Homo sapiens: one gene and its partners. The protein of the gene in region 1 interacts with the protein of each later gene in a pairwise test. Each region holds a gene or a part of one and is shown in the gene's direction. Other genes may lie near its edges.

The links. The genes of interacting proteins can lie anywhere in the genome.
Region 2: the proteins of CCNK (region 1) and PRR20D interact in a two-hybrid assay, tested with the Homo sapiens proteins (one large-scale study listed by BioGRID).
Region 3: the proteins of CCNK (region 1) and PRR20E interact in a two-hybrid assay, tested with the Homo sapiens proteins (one large-scale study listed by BioGRID).
Region 4: the proteins of CCNK (region 1) and HMG20A interact in a two-hybrid assay, tested with the Homo sapiens proteins (one large-scale study listed by BioGRID and IntAct).

Annotation. Positions count from the first base shown.
Region 1 is NC_000014.9:99,498,409-99,501,908, forward strand, and holds part of CCNK (cyclin-K), read left to right. Parts: intron 1-1,781; exon of another isoform or gene 1,782-2,357; coding exon 2,358-2,463; exon of another isoform or gene 2,464-2,947; coding exon 2,948-3,005; exon of another isoform or gene 3,006-3,500. UniProt on the Homo sapiens protein: Regulatory subunit of cyclin-dependent kinases that mediates activation of target kinases.
Region 2 is NC_000013.11:57,159,450-57,163,431, forward strand, and holds the start of PRR20D (proline-rich protein 20D), read left to right. Parts: upstream 1-1,182; 5' UTR 1,183-1,396; intron 1,397-1,550; 5' UTR 1,551-1,569; coding exon 1,570-1,621; intron 1,622-2,642; coding exon 2,643-3,256; 3' UTR 3,257-3,982.
Region 3 is NC_000013.11:57,165,770-57,169,996, forward strand, and holds the start of PRR20E (proline-rich protein 20E), read left to right. Parts: upstream 1-1,427; 5' UTR 1,428-1,641; intron 1,642-1,795; 5' UTR 1,796-1,814; coding exon 1,815-1,866; intron 1,867-2,887; coding exon 2,888-3,501; 3' UTR 3,502-4,227.
Region 4 is NC_000015.10:77,469,388-77,472,887, forward strand, and holds part of HMG20A (high mobility group protein 20A), read left to right. Parts: intron 1-1,522; coding exon 1,523-1,655; intron 1,656-2,395; coding exon 2,396-2,427; intron 2,428-3,500. UniProt on the Homo sapiens protein: Plays a role in neuronal differentiation as chromatin-associated protein. Acts as inhibitor of HMG20B. Overcomes the repressive effects of the neuronal silencer REST and induces the activation of neuronal-specific genes.

The DNA of each region.
Region 1 (3,500 bases):
CCTGGAGCTGGGAGCAGTGAAGACATTGGGGAAGATGTTTTCCTCTGCAGACAGGAGGGCAATTCTTTAGTGGAGGCAGTATAAGTATTTAGGAAAAATAAGATCATGAGTCCCATGGAACATTTTTTGCCTTAATTAGCTTTATTTTAATTGTGTGGCTTTTCTCTGTAATATTCGTTTCAGCCTTTGTGTTGGGCACTAGACATGAGGCACGAGGCAGAACAGACATGGTCTCTGCTCTCATGGACTCTGCAGTTGAGTGGCAGGATAAATTTTAATCAAATGAGTATATAACTATTTGATGATGAGTTGTGGTGTACGCTGTAAAAGGTCATTTAAGGTGCTGTGATAGCATTCCACCCAGGGACCCAGGCAAGTCCCCCGGATAAATAGGGGCTGAGGGAAGGCGTTCCTGAGGAATGATGTTTGCTCAAAGACCTATAATGACCCCATTAATTGAATATTTGGAAGACAGAGGGAGGGCAGGCCCTGGGCTATCCTGTAACAGTATGTGGGCTACAGCCTGCAAGCCAATTGGTACACTTGGTAAAAAGAATTGTTTCTAAATTTAGAGGAAGTGTTGAAGCTTCTGGGAAGCAGGTGGTGACAATGACATTCAAAGAAAAAAATTGTTTTGTTTTGTTTTTTGAGATGGAGTCTCACTCTTGTTACTCAGGCTGGAGTGCAGTGGCACAGTCTCAGCTCACTGCAGCCTCTGCCGCCCAGGCTCGAGCGATTCTCCTGCCTCAGCTTCCCAAGTAGGGGACTACAGGCGCCTGCCACCATGATTGGCTAATTTTTATATTTTTGGTAGAGGTGGGGTTTCAGCATGTTGGCCAGGCTGGTCTTGAACTCCTGACCTCAAGTGATCTGCCCGCCTCGGCCTCCCAAAGTGCTGGGATTACAGGCATGAGCCACCATGTCCAGCCCAGTTTTTTTTACACTGTGTGAAAGTTTCTAAGATTTTAAAAAACTTTCATGAGAAAATGCTTGGGAAACTAAGATTGAAAAACCTTAGTCTTGCCATGTAATTTGGAATAATAATTATAGAATCATCTCTGTATCCTATAAAATAATACCATGCTTCTAAATGAAAGCCAGTGACCTGTGGGTCTCTGCACCTGTTGATGAGATTTACAGTCCTCTACAACGCCCTGTCTTTGATGCCAAACAAGGAATTCTCTCAAATTGTCCTCCCCGCACACAGTGTCTTGGTTGTGGTTTATGTTGTCTTTAAGCAGTAGGTACAGTCGGCTGTACAGGGGCTGAGTTCAAGACATTAGTTAGAGAGTATCATCAAAGAGGACATTCCATTAACGATAGCAACAGTAAAATATCCAAGGTTAAACCTTGTGGAAACCTCGTTAGTGGGGTGGAAAGGACTTTAAAACAACTAAAGGACTGAAAAGATATTAATAAATTTTTGGAAGGAAACTTCAATATGGTTAAAAATCTCCATTCTCCCTAATTATTCTATAAATCCTCTGAGTTTCCAATGAGAATATTAATAGCATGTATGTTTTCTGTAATGATACTAAGTAAAATGGTTACTAAAATTTGAGTGAGGGGGACATGCAGAACCCAGAAACTGTTTGAAAAAGAGAAGTAATACTGGAGCTATTGTATCCCACCCAAATCCCTTTGATCCTGGTCCAGGAGTAGACAGGCAGATCAGTGAACAGAAAAGATAGTGTGTGTGTAGGCAGACATACACACGTAGTTTAGGAGGTGATTTAGGTAGCATTTTAAATAAAATTGGAAATGATCATTTATTCAGTAAGTGTTGTTGGGATGATTTATTTCAAATAAATGAAAGATTTAAACACAAAATTGATTTGCCCCCATTTGCACGTAATACACTATATGTGTACATGAGTATATATACACACACATACACACACACTGGTACAATTTATCTCTGAGTTTTCATGAGGCTGGCTATCATAAACTCTTTCTTGCTTAAAATGTTTTCAATGAAAATTCCTAAAAGATTGCATTTTTAAAATTTGAGGTCTTGAAAGAAATTACAATTTAGTCAAATTATCAATAACGTAAAGATCTGTTTTGTAAAGGGAGACTCATGTATGTATTGAAAATAATAATATTTTTAAGGATCTTTTGTTTTCAGTATTTTTTTTTACATTACACCTCTGCTTTGTCTTCCTGTTTGAGATCTTTTCAGAATTTATCAGTGTCTCTGAGCATGTTAAAAGTCTGAGTGGGAGAGAAAGGAAGGAAAGGCAGTTGCTAAAATATAACTTGAAGAGAGAATAAATAGACAGGAAAGCTCACTTTTGTAATGCTGCTTGAGACCTGCAATTGTAATTACTGTCCTAACATTTGTGATTGATTTTTAGGAGGAAGTAATGGTTCTGGAGAGAATCTTACTGCAGACCATCAAGTTTGATTTACAGGTAGAACATCCATACCAGTTCCTACTAAAATATGCAAAGCAACTCAAAGGTAAGAAGAAAGTTTTCAGAAGAATTTTTTCATTCTGAAATCAAGTCTTTATAATTTGATGACACTCAAATTACGCTTCTCAAAAGCGGAAAACAAAGTTTGATGTGTGAAATACCAAGGGCATGGCTTGCTCAGTCAATTCAGCATTGCAGCTGCTAATGCTGTTTCCTTTTATGTATAAACAGGCTCTGTCATCCAGTTGCCAAGTGATGGGAGAGGCAGGAAAATGAGGCAGAATTTTTTAAATGGACTAATAAACTTAGCCTTGGAGCCAGGTTTTCCATACATGGTGGTTCAGCGTAGGTCATGAGGAGGAAGAAGGGGTAGGATGTGGACCCACATCATTCATCCTTGTTTCCCACGCAAAAGCTCTTTGCTGTGTATTTGAGTGGTGCTGAACACGTGGTAGGTTTTTAATAAATACTTGATGCTGCCTGTGAATTTTTCTATTGCTATTAATTTACCTTTTTGTCCCCATTTCTAGGTGATAAAAACAAAATTCAAAAGTTGGTTCAAATGGCATGGACATTTGTAAATGACAGGTATACATGTTCAAATGTTGATTAATTACAGTATTTTAAAATAGGCAGAGACTTTATGGACCATTTCATCTAAACCCCTCATTTTGTGTCAGAAGAAACTGACTTGCCCTGGCTTGAGGAGCCAGTTAATGGCAAAGCTGGGGCTGACGTCCAGGTCATCTGCTTCCCGGCAGAGGGTTTCCTTCTGCCCTGCCGTGTCATGGTGTTGTGAGGTGCTGAAATTTTATCACCAGTCTGAAACATAAGTCCAAAACAATACACTGGAGAATTTTGAAAACTAATTACTTAGAGCCCATTTGGTTTTGCAAAAATATACTTCCTGGTATAGTTTTAGAGCCTTAACACTCTTTTGAGAGGCCAGGGATCTAATGAGGGGCCGTGGTGGGAAACAGAATGCCTGTGAATGGAGTTGCTGCCAGCCCCATCCCACTGCAGTCAGTGAAGCTTCTCTTACATTTGACTTCCTCCATAAGATTTCATTTGAAGAAACAGTTG
Region 2 (3,982 bases), on another chromosome or scaffold:
CCCCCCCCCCCCCAAGTAGCCGCAGCGAGCCGAGATGGCACCGCTGCACTCCAGCCTGGGCTACAGAGCGAGAACCCGTCTCTGTAAAAGACACAAGGATGCAAACCAACCAAATAACCCACTGTGGGATCCCCTCCAGCGTCCTGCTGTGTTTCCCGCTGTCTTCCTCCACCCGTGAGTGCACCCACAGCAATAAAAGCCAGCGGTGTGGGTCTCACACGCATCTCCAGCCCCGTCGCCATCGCGCTGAGCTCGACTCTTTTTACAAAAGGCCACTTGACATCCTCACTTGGCAGTTCAAAAGCCCCTTCAACCAGATGTGCGCAAGCCAAGCTCCGCAACTTCCCGTTCAGAGCAGGTTCTCGGTCCACCTCTGCCTGAATGAACCGGCGGGCTACCAAGGCCGCAGTCTCTTCCTCAAGGGCTGTCCACACTGGGTCTCGCTTTCTCTTGGAAATTTCTCTCCCACCAGGGAACTTTCTCCTCCTCTACCTCCCTGAGTCTCAGTCTAACAGCACCCTGCGCCCAACCCCGAGGGCTGCAATAGCCTTCTTGCCTCTCCTGACTTATTCTGCGGACCCTGGGTTGGCGCTCCTTCACAGCCAGGCTGGTCGTTTCTGAAATGTTAACCCGCTGCCGGACACCGTTCCACGGTTTTCCGCTGCCTTGGAACAAGACCAGCTCCTGCGCGGACCCTGCCTCCACCTCGCACCACCTCCGGGCCTGGACTTGGCCTCCCGTCCATTCCCAGAATGTGCCGGGCTCCCTTCCAGTCCGGGCCTCAGCACACTCTCTTCACTCCCCTTCCTCCCTCCCTGCCTCTCCCAACCCGGTTCAGGATGACTAATTTCAAACGTTATGTTCCAGATTTCAGCCCAGATATCCCCGCTTTGGATGCTTTCCTTGACCATGCTCAGATCTAAGCTAATCGCATCTTCCTGTCAGCCGCTTTCAGGGCACCACACCTCATTGTGCTGACACTCAGAGGTCATTATGCAATTTTTTTTCCTCGATGATTAGATTAATCAATCAACCACGGACGTCTAGAAATGGCGGCATCTCAGAAGGGCCCCCATTTGACTGGCAGGGGACTGGCCCAATGCGCCTCGCAAGCCCAGCCAGGCCCGCCCCAGCCGGCCCCCCTCTGACGACGCCTGTCCCTTACGCGACTGCCTTGCTGCCATATAAGAGGGACGGCGCTCGGCCTCCAGCAGTCGGCTTTCTGCTGGGCTCGGAGCCAGAACCTGCTGCGTGCTCCCTCCAGACTCCCTGGCTGCGGGTGGACTACCTCAGAGCTACAGCGGTGAACCTGTGGACACCTCCGACTCCTCGGGCCTCTCTTCGTCGAAGAGTCTCCTAATTTTCAGATCTCCGGAGCCAGCTGTGGGAAGATCAGGTGTGTGTCTGGGGGTCCCGGAGGCGTGGACGGATCTCGGGTGGGTGCAGTTGGGGACAGAATCCTCATTCCCCTAGAAAGGCCACGGCCATCCCCCTGCCTTGTCACCTCTGTCTTCCTAAATCCGTTCTTGCTCTCTTGTTTTTCTCCCCAGCCCCTCCCGCCGATTGCTCATGGAGGAACCAAGGCCTTCGAAGCGACTTCGCTCCATGGCCCCTAATCAAGGTACATCAAACGCCTGCCACTCCTCTCTTTTTAATTTCGTCTGTTCCCCAATTCTTCCCCAATGGTTGACACTCAAACTCAATCAAGCATTCTCTGTTTCACCTTCTCCTAGCCTGCCTCAACCTGGGCTGCTTGTTGGAAGTCAGCTCCCGGGTTCCACATCATCTGGGAAATTCCTTTCCCTCTTCCGAACCGTAATCCCATTTCCCAAATCTGAGATTTGCTGTTGTTGTCGCTGTTTCCTTCTGTTTAGTTTTGTATTACTGTTTCTCCGTAGCAGAGCGAGTCCTCACGCTACGTCTTGATCTATGATAAACCGGTACTTCCACCTTGTTCTTTCCCGGAGGAGTTGGAATTTTCCGGCTGTTGCCACGTTGTTCTCCAAAACTTTTCCCTTCATACGCTGAGTGTCCTAAATCTTTTAATCTTGTCTAGTTTGACAGATGCATAACAATAAAGCATCCACTGAAAGGAAATTCTTTAACATCTTGCTTGTCTGAAACATCTTCATTCTCCCCTCCCAGATTCTTCAGCGAAACTTCGGTTGGACAGGAAATTTTAGGTGGGAAATTCATTTCCCTTGAAATTTCGAAGACATTTTCTGTTATGTTCTAGACTGAACTGCTGCTTTTGAGATGTCTGACTTTTGAGACATGTGGAATCCTAGCCCTTTCCATGTGACTTTTCCTTTCTCTGTCTCCCGCTCTCTAGAATCTGTTAGAATCTTCTCTTTTTCCTCAGCACTCTGAAATTTTCTGGTGAAATGTCTCAGCCACAGCATACCTCTAATTCTCTTATATTTCATCCTTCTTTCCATCATTTTAGGTTTTTGCTTTGTTCTGTGGGAGACCTTCTCAACTTCTTTCTCCAACTTCCGTGGAGAGTTTTGTTTCTTCTCTCACAATTTTAACTTCAGAAATCCCTCTTTTCTCTGAGTATTTATTTGTAAAAGTATCCTATAACTGCTTGACGGGTGAAGTTCCTTCTGTCTCTCTCTGCTCACGCTCCGCTTCTCTTTTAGCCTCAGGTGGGCCTCCTCCAGAGCCAGGCTGCTGTGTTGCGGACCCTGAAGGCTCCGTGGAAGCAGATGGGCCCGCACAGCCAGCCCAACCCGCAAAACCCATCGCTTACGTGAAACCCTTCAGACGGCAGCCCCCAGCTCGCCCAGAGTCACCCCCTCCTGCAGAGAGAGGCCGGCGCCGGGGAGGAAGCCGGCGGCCAGGGCGAGGCCGTGGCAGAAGGGCTGGGCCCCGCGGGGACGCTGGCCAGAGACAGGGGGCAGAAGGCTTGATGGCACCGGACGTGCACATCCAACTGGACCACCATGGAGAGCCAGGCCACCAGGGGGAACCGGAAATCACGGAGACCGCAGCCTTCTCCCTTTCTGAAACAGGTCCTCCGCCTGGAACTGTGCAGGAAGGCCCTGGCCCCGACGTGGCGCAACCTGAGCTGGGGTTTCAGGAGCCGCCCGCTGCTCCTGGGCCTCAGGCTGTTGACTGGCAACCCGTCTTGACCCTCTATCCCTGCATCGGGTTTAGGGCTCTGGGTGACTCAGCGGTTTTACAAGTCATTCAAACCCCCCAGGGCACCTACGTGCAAGGGGTCCCAGTGTTCCTCACCGACATTGCGTATTGACCACTATCTGCCACCCACGTTGTTCCCAGCCTCCCTTCCTTCCACCTGGACGTTCCCCCCAGCCCCACTTCTGCTCCACTCCTCCCCCGACTGGACCTGAAGCCTGAGCTTCCCCTGAACTTGGAGTACGCAACTTACAACATGCAAGCTGCCAAACACCCTTTCTGTACAAGGCGATTGGAATGGAACTGTCATGTACAGTGAAAGTACACGTCACGTTTTTCAGCCAAGAAGAAGCCAACCCAGACAACCTGGAAGAAGTGGGATGCAACAAGGATCACTAAGCATGGAAATTAGGAAACTGTATTCTTAAGTCCAGAGAAGTACGATTCTGGAAAAAGGATTGATGACCTAGAATTAAAATTCCAGAAGACACTCATATAGACATGTGGGACATGCGAAAACTCAGAAGGAGCTAGAAGTTACTAAAGTGCTTCTCTAGTGCCTGGAGACGATAGACTGGCTGAATATAAGAGCAATAAAAATCTAGACTGACACATTTTTAAGTCTCAACGTGGGTACCCTTTGGGAACCACTAAATGAATTGGAATAGAAGGTAAAATTTCAAACAGATTGAGGAAAAAGGGGATCAAAGGACATGTGACGAATCAGACAAAAGGTGTTGGGGTGGGGGGGGGGGCGGTTAACGGAAGCAAGGAGAGTGCATGACTCACTGGAACCGCTAAACCAGGAATCAGTAATTTGACGGCAGTGTCCTTGGCTTCC
Region 3 (4,227 bases), on another chromosome or scaffold:
ACCCAAAAAAATAATTGGCCCGGCATGGTGGCTTGCGCCTGGGGTCCCAGCGACTCGGGAGGTTGAGCGGGACGGACGGCTTGAGCTCAGGCCTTCCAAACAAGCCTGGGCACATAGCGAAACCTCGTCTCTCCAAAAAAATCCGAAAATTATCCCGATGTGGTGGCGCTCACCTGTAGTCCAGCTACTCCGGAGGCCGAGACAGGAGAATCACTTGAACTGATTCTCCTATCTCAGCCCCCCCCCCCCCCCCCCCCCAAGTAGCCGCAGCGAGCCGAGATGGCACCGCTGCACTCCAGCCTGGGCTACAGAGCGAGAACCCGTCTCTGTAAAAGACACAAGGATGCAAACCAACCAAATAACCCACTGTGGGATCCCCTCCAGCGTCCTGCTGTGTTTCCCGCTGTCTTCCTCCACCCGTGAGTGCACCCACAGCAATAAAAGCCAGCGGTGTGGGTCTCACACGCATCTCCAGCCCCGTCGCCATCGCGCTGAGCTCGACTCTTTTTACAAAAGGCCACTTGACATCCTCACTTGGCAGTTCAAAAGCCCCTTCAACCAGATGTGCGCAAGCCAAGCTCCGCAACTTCCCGTTCAGAGCAGGTTCTCGGTCCACCTCTGCCTGAATGAACCGGCGGGCTACCAAGGCCGCAGTCTCTTCCTCAAGGGCTGTCCACACTGGGTCTCGCTTTCTCTTGGAAATTTCTCTCCCACCAGGGAACTTTCTCCTCCTCTACCTCCCTGAGTCTCAGTCTAACAGCACCCTGCGCCCAACCCCGAGGGCTGCAATAGCCTTCTTGCCTCTCCTGACTTATTCTGCGGACCCTGGGTTGGCGCTCCTTCACAGCCAGGCTGGTCGTTTCTGAAATGTTAACCCGCTGCCGGACACCGTTCCACGGTTTTCCGCTGCCTTGGAACAAGACCAGCTCCTGCGCGGACCCTGCCTCCACCTCGCACCACCTCCGGGCCTGGACTTGGCCTCCCGTCCATTCCCAGAATGTGCCGGGCTCCCTTCCAGTCCGGGCCTCAGCACACTCTCTTCACTCCCCTTCCTCCCTCCCTGCCTCTCCCAACCCGGTTCAGGATGACTAATTTCAAACGTTATGTTCCAGATTTCAGCCCAGATATCCCCGCTTTGGATGCTTTCCTTGACCATGCTCAGATCTAAGCTAATCGCATCTTCCTGTCAGCCGCTTTCAGGGCACCACACCTCATTGTGCTGACACTCAGAGGTCATTATGCAATTTTTTTTCCTCGATGATTAGATTAATCAATCAACCACGGACGTCTAGAAATGGCGGCATCTCAGAAGGGCCCCCATTTGACTGGCAGGGGACTGGCCCAATGCGCCTCGCAAGCCCAGCCAGGCCCGCCCCAGCCGGCCCCCCTCTGACGACGCCTGTCCCTTACGCGACTGCCTTGCTGCCATATAAGAGGGACGGCGCTCGGCCTCCAGCAGTCGGCTTTCTGCTGGGCTCGGAGCCAGAACCTGCTGCGTGCTCCCTCCAGACTCCCTGGCTGCGGGTGGACTACCTCAGAGCTACAGCGGTGAACCTGTGGACACCTCCGACTCCTCGGGCCTCTCTTCGTCGAAGAGTCTCCTAATTTTCAGATCTCCGGAGCCAGCTGTGGGAAGATCAGGTGTGTGTCTGGGGGTCCCGGAGGCGTGGACGGATCTCGGGTGGGTGCAGTTGGGGACAGAATCCTCATTCCCCTAGAAAGGCCACGGCCATCCCCCTGCCTTGTCACCTCTGTCTTCCTAAATCCGTTCTTGCTCTCTTGTTTTTCTCCCCAGCCCCTCCCGCCGATTGCTCATGGAGGAACCAAGGCCTTCGAAGCGACTTCGCTCCATGGCCCCTAATCAAGGTACATCAAACGCCTGCCACTCCTCTCTTTTTAATTTCGTCTGTTCCCCAATTCTTCCCCAATGGTTGACACTCAAACTCAATCAAGCATTCTCTGTTTCACCTTCTCCTAGCCTGCCTCAACCTGGGCTGCTTGTTGGAAGTCAGCTCCCGGGTTCCACATCATCTGGGAAATTCCTTTCCCTCTTCCGAACCGTAATCCCATTTCCCAAATCTGAGATTTGCTGTTGTTGTCGCTGTTTCCTTCTGTTTAGTTTTGTATTACTGTTTCTCCGTAGCAGAGCGAGTCCTCACGCTACGTCTTGATCTATGATAAACCGGTACTTCCACCTTGTTCTTTCCCGGAGGAGTTGGAATTTTCCGGCTGTTGCCACGTTGTTCTCCAAAACTTTTCCCTTCATACGCTGAGTGTCCTAAATCTTTTAATCTTGTCTAGTTTGACAGATGCATAACAATAAAGCATCCACTGAAAGGAAATTCTTTAACATCTTGCTTGTCTGAAACATCTTCATTCTCCCCTCCCAGATTCTTCAGCGAAACTTCGGTTGGACAGGAAATTTTAGGTGGGAAATTCATTTCCCTTGAAATTTCGAAGACATTTTCTGTTATGTTCTAGACTGAACTGCTGCTTTTGAGATGTCTGACTTTTGAGACATGTGGAATCCTAGCCCTTTCCATGTGACTTTTCCTTTCTCTGTCTCCCGCTCTCTAGAATCTGTTAGAATCTTCTCTTTTTCCTCAGCACTCTGAAATTTTCTGGTGAAATGTCTCAGCCACAGCATACCTCTAATTCTCTTATATTTCATCCTTCTTTCCATCATTTTAGGTTTTTGCTTTGTTCTGTGGGAGACCTTCTCAACTTCTTTCTCCAACTTCCGTGGAGAGTTTTGTTTCTTCTCTCACAATTTTAACTTCAGAAATCCCTCTTTTCTCTGAGTATTTATTTGTAAAAGTATCCTATAACTGCTTGACGGGTGAAGTTCCTTCTGTCTCTCTCTGCTCACGCTCCGCTTCTCTTTTAGCCTCAGGTGGGCCTCCTCCAGAGCCAGGCTGCTGTGTTGCGGACCCTGAAGGCTCCGTGGAAGCAGATGGGCCCGCACAGCCAGCCCAACCCGCAAAACCCATCGCTTACGTGAAACCCTTCAGACGGCAGCCCCCAGCTCGCCCAGAGTCACCCCCTCCTGCAGAGAGAGGCCGGCGCCGGGGAGGAAGCCGGCGGCCAGGGCGAGGCCGTGGCAGAAGGGCTGGGCCCCGCGGGGACGCTGGCCAGAGACAGGGGGCAGAAGGCTTGATGGCACCGGACGTGCACATCCAACTGGACCACCATGGAGAGCCAGGCCACCAGGGGGAACCGGAAATCACGGAGACCGCAGCCTTCTCCCTTTCTGAAACAGGTCCTCCGCCTGGAACTGTGCAGGAAGGCCCTGGCCCCGACGTGGCGCAACCTGAGCTGGGGTTTCAGGAGCCGCCCGCTGCTCCTGGGCCTCAGGCTGTTGACTGGCAACCCGTCTTGACCCTCTATCCCTGCATCGGGTTTAGGGCTCTGGGTGACTCAGCGGTTTTACAAGTCATTCAAACCCCCCAGGGCACCTACGTGCAAGGGGTCCCAGTGTTCCTCACCGACATTGCGTATTGACCACTATCTGCCACCCACGTTGTTCCCAGCCTCCCTTCCTTCCACCTGGACGTTCCCCCCAGCCCCACTTCTGCTCCACTCCTCCCCCGACTGGACCTGAAGCCTGAGCTTCCCCTGAACTTGGAGTACGCAACTTACAACATGCAAGCTGCCAAACACCCTTTCTGTACAAGGCGATTGGAATGGAACTGTCATGTACAGTGAAAGTACACGTCACGTTTTTCAGCCAAGAAGAAGCCAACCCAGACAACCTGGAAGAAGTGGGATGCAACAAGGATCACTAAGCATGGAAATTAGGAAACTGTATTCTTAAGTCCAGAGAAGTACGATTCTGGAAAAAGGATTGATGACCTAGAATTAAAATTCCAGAAGACACTCATATAGACATGTGGGACATGCGAAAACTCAGAAGGAGCTAGAAGTTACTAAAGTGCTTCTCTAGTGCCTGGAGACGATAGACTGGCTGAATATAAGAGCAATAAAAATCTAGACTGACACATTTTTAAGTCTCAACGTGGGTACCCTTTGGGAACCACTAAATGAATTGGAATAGAAGGTAAAATTTCAAACAGATTGAGGAAAAAGGGGATCAAAGGACATGTGACGAATCAGACAAAAGGTGTTGGGGTGGGGGGGGGGGCGGTTAACGGAAGCAAGGAGAGTGCATGACTCACTGGAACCGCTAAACCAGGAATCAGTAATTTGACGGCAGTGTCCTTGGCTTCC
Region 4 (3,500 bases), on another chromosome or scaffold:
TTCAGCATTCTAATCTAAGCAAGATCTTGGCTTACTGCAACCTTGACCTCCTGGTCTCAAGCACCCCTCCCACCTTAGCCTCCTAAGTAGCACACACCACCAAAACTGGCTAATTATTTTATGTTTTGTAGAGATGGGATCTCACTTTGTTGCCTAGGCTGGACTCAAACATCTGGGCTCAAGCAGTCCTCCTCTTGCCTTGGCCTCCCAACATCCTGTGATTACAGATATGAGCCACCATGCCCGACCCCCTACCCCCATTTATTTATTTGTTTGTTTGTTTGTTTGTTTGTTTTTTGAGATGGAATCTTGCTCTGTCGCCCAAACTGGAGTGCGGTGGCACACTCTCGGCTCATTGCAACCTCCACCTCCCAGGTTCAAGCGATTCTCTAGCCTCAGCTTCCCAAGTAGCTGGGACTACAGGCGTGCACCATCACACCCAGCTAATTTTTGTATTTTTAGTAGAGATGGGGTTTCAGCATGTTGACCAGTGTGGTCTTGAACTCCTGACCTCAAGTGATCCACCCACCTCGGTCTCCCAAAATGTTGGGATTACGTGCGTGAGCCACCACGCTCAGCCTCTACACCCATTTATTGTATTTGTATGGTAACAAATCATTGGTATTGTGTCTGTTATAAATCATACTAATAATAGTATGAAGTTTTTTCTACTAGTTTATAATTTATTACTGTACTTAATTATTTTGGTGCTTAAATTGTACCAGATTTGGCCAGTTGAGTATCCCCTACATCTGGCTCTTACGCGGGACAAAGTGTTTAACATAATTTCTGAGTGTGTTTTCTGTTCATTTAGAAGCAGTATTTTTATACTTTCTTATACTTCATTTTGATGAATGAAAAGGGCAAAGCATTAAACAAAATAATCCTGGTAGATCAATGAACTTTGTTTAAATAATTAATAGCACAAAGCAATCAAAGCATGTAGATATAGGTTCTCTCAGAGTAGTCCATTTTTAGGTCCATAGGATGAGGTCATTATTTTTATGTTCTTTGTGTCTCCCAGCTTCATTGCTCCAACCTCCTGGCTCTTAAAGGGCCAATTGATGTATGACATCATCCCCTCAAAATGGGCTGGAGACAGCAAAACAAAGTAATATTCTGTTCCTTCCCTTGGGAAGACTAAGTGTGCCTATGTGGTGTGCACATCTCATGAGGATGACTCTAGTGGCCATATAGAGTTCTATCTATAGAGTTAGAAGAATAACTCTAATCATCTTCATGAATTTTTTATAAGAATGATCTCAATAGAACTTGTCTTCATTAGGTTAGAAAAGGCAATAAATATTCTAAAAACTCATAATGACCTATTTACTTTTATAATTGAGAGGTTATATTTTATTCTATTCATACAACTCTTGTTTTTCTGATTCTTTTTTAAGGCATATTCCCTATATTCTTTTCTTCCCATGTTCTAATTGTCCTGTTTTCTTCAAATAGGTAATTTAATTTTATTTAAATAGGATCTCATTTTCTTGAAAATAATTCTGTATTTCTTTCCTAGCGCTACCTTGATGAAGCAGACAGAGATAAGGAGCGTTACATGAAGGAACTGGAACAGTATCAGAAAACAGAGGCCTACAAGGTCTTCAGTAGGAAAACCCAGGACCGTCAGAAAGGCAAATCTCATAGGCAAGGTATCAAAACCAGAACCAAATGTATTTGTAGTTTGTTGTGGGTGATGGAGTGTCATAAAGCCAACTGTTAAGAGTGGTAACTATAAAAGATGTGTTTCTGTTTTTTCTCCACTATCCAGTATTCACTTACAAGCATTATCTTGAAATTTTATTAAAATCACATTGCTCTCATTTAGAAATTTCAACTGGGTTTCCGTGTCTATTATCAATGATTTTGACTTGTCCTCCGAGACCCCTGTTAGTTGCCTGCCCTTCTTTTCCTGATTCCCAGTTTAGGCATTTCTCTGCCTGTAAGCAAGCCTATCTACAAAATTATATCAGTAACTTCCCTTTAACACTTCTAAGCCTTTCATGTGTCATTTTTGAAGCACCATCCACAACTAGCCTATTTTTCCTTAGCCATTGCATCTTCTCTATACTTGGGCATCTAGCCTGCTAAAATTATAGATGTTGTATAAGTAGTCTTTGGTTTGTGTCTTCTGTCCACTCTTCCACCCTTTTCTCCCTAAAGTTAAGAACTGTGTCTGCTGTTTCTCTTATGCCTAATTATGAATTCTGTAGGCATGGGGTTCCCTTACTTTTGTTGGCTGACCGATTAATAAAGCCTTAAGGAAAAATATCATATGTTATGAGAATCTACATATACAAGCAGGTTTTATAGTTTGGCAGAGTCGTATACTTGGGTTTTGTTATTGCTTTCTTTTTAAATGTAATGTTCTCTTATTCTTTTATATTTTTAGATGCAGCCCGGCAGGCCACTCATGATCATGAGGTAATTAGCCATCTGTCTACATATCATATATATGTATTTATAATAATGTTGCTTTTTGAAATGCTATTGGATTTTTTTTTTTTTAATGAATGGCAAAGTATTTCCTATCTCGTAATTCAGATTAAATGAGATACTTTAGCTTGGGGGTTCTTAGCATATGGCAGACACTTACGTTGTGTGTCTGTCATTGAACTACAGCCCCTAACCTCAATCCTTTCCTGTGATCTGAGAATTTTATTGGCTTTAAATGCCAAAGATGGCTGGAATTTGGAATGAAGTATAGAAATGAGGGCTAGCTGAAAGCTATAACATGACCATAGTTTATCATCACCAAATACTTAAATCTGACTCTCAGAAAAGTTGTTATTTAAAGAATCCAGCATTTGCTTAAAGCGAACTGTTCAACTACAATGTCGATAGAGCACAAGCGACAGTATCTCAGGTTTGTTTTTTGTTTTGTTTTGTTTTTTGTTTTTTTGAGATAGAGTCTCACTCTGTCGCCCAGGCTGGAGTGCAGTGGCACAATCTCAGCCCACTGCAACCTCCGCCTCCCGGGTTCAAGCAATTCTCCTGCCTCAGCCTCCCGAGTAGCTGGGACTACAGGCTCGTGCCATCATACCCGGCTAATTTTCTGTATTTTTAGTAGAGACAGGGTTTCATCATATGAGCCAGGATGGTCTCGATCTCCTGACCTCATGATCCACCCGCCTTGGCCTCCCAAAATGCTGGGATTACAGGCGTGAGCCACCACGCCCGGCCCAGTATCTCAGTTCTCACACCTCCTTTCCTATTCCCTCACTTCACTAGCACATGTTTGTGTACTGGCTTCTTTCCTCCCACTTGGTTCAGCCCCATTGTTAGGATTTAGGCCTGTGTTTCTGTGTGTGTATGGGATTTAGGTGTGTGTGTTGTTTCAAATTCTGTTTTCTCCTTCAAACTTTTCTTGTTTCCTCTAACTTCCTTTAACCCTCATGGCTCTCTATACTTGTGTTATGTGCTTAGCTGATCTGACCTAGGGGTTTTGAGGTAATTCAAGGGCTCACACTCTTTGGTTGTAATGTCTTTGTGGACAT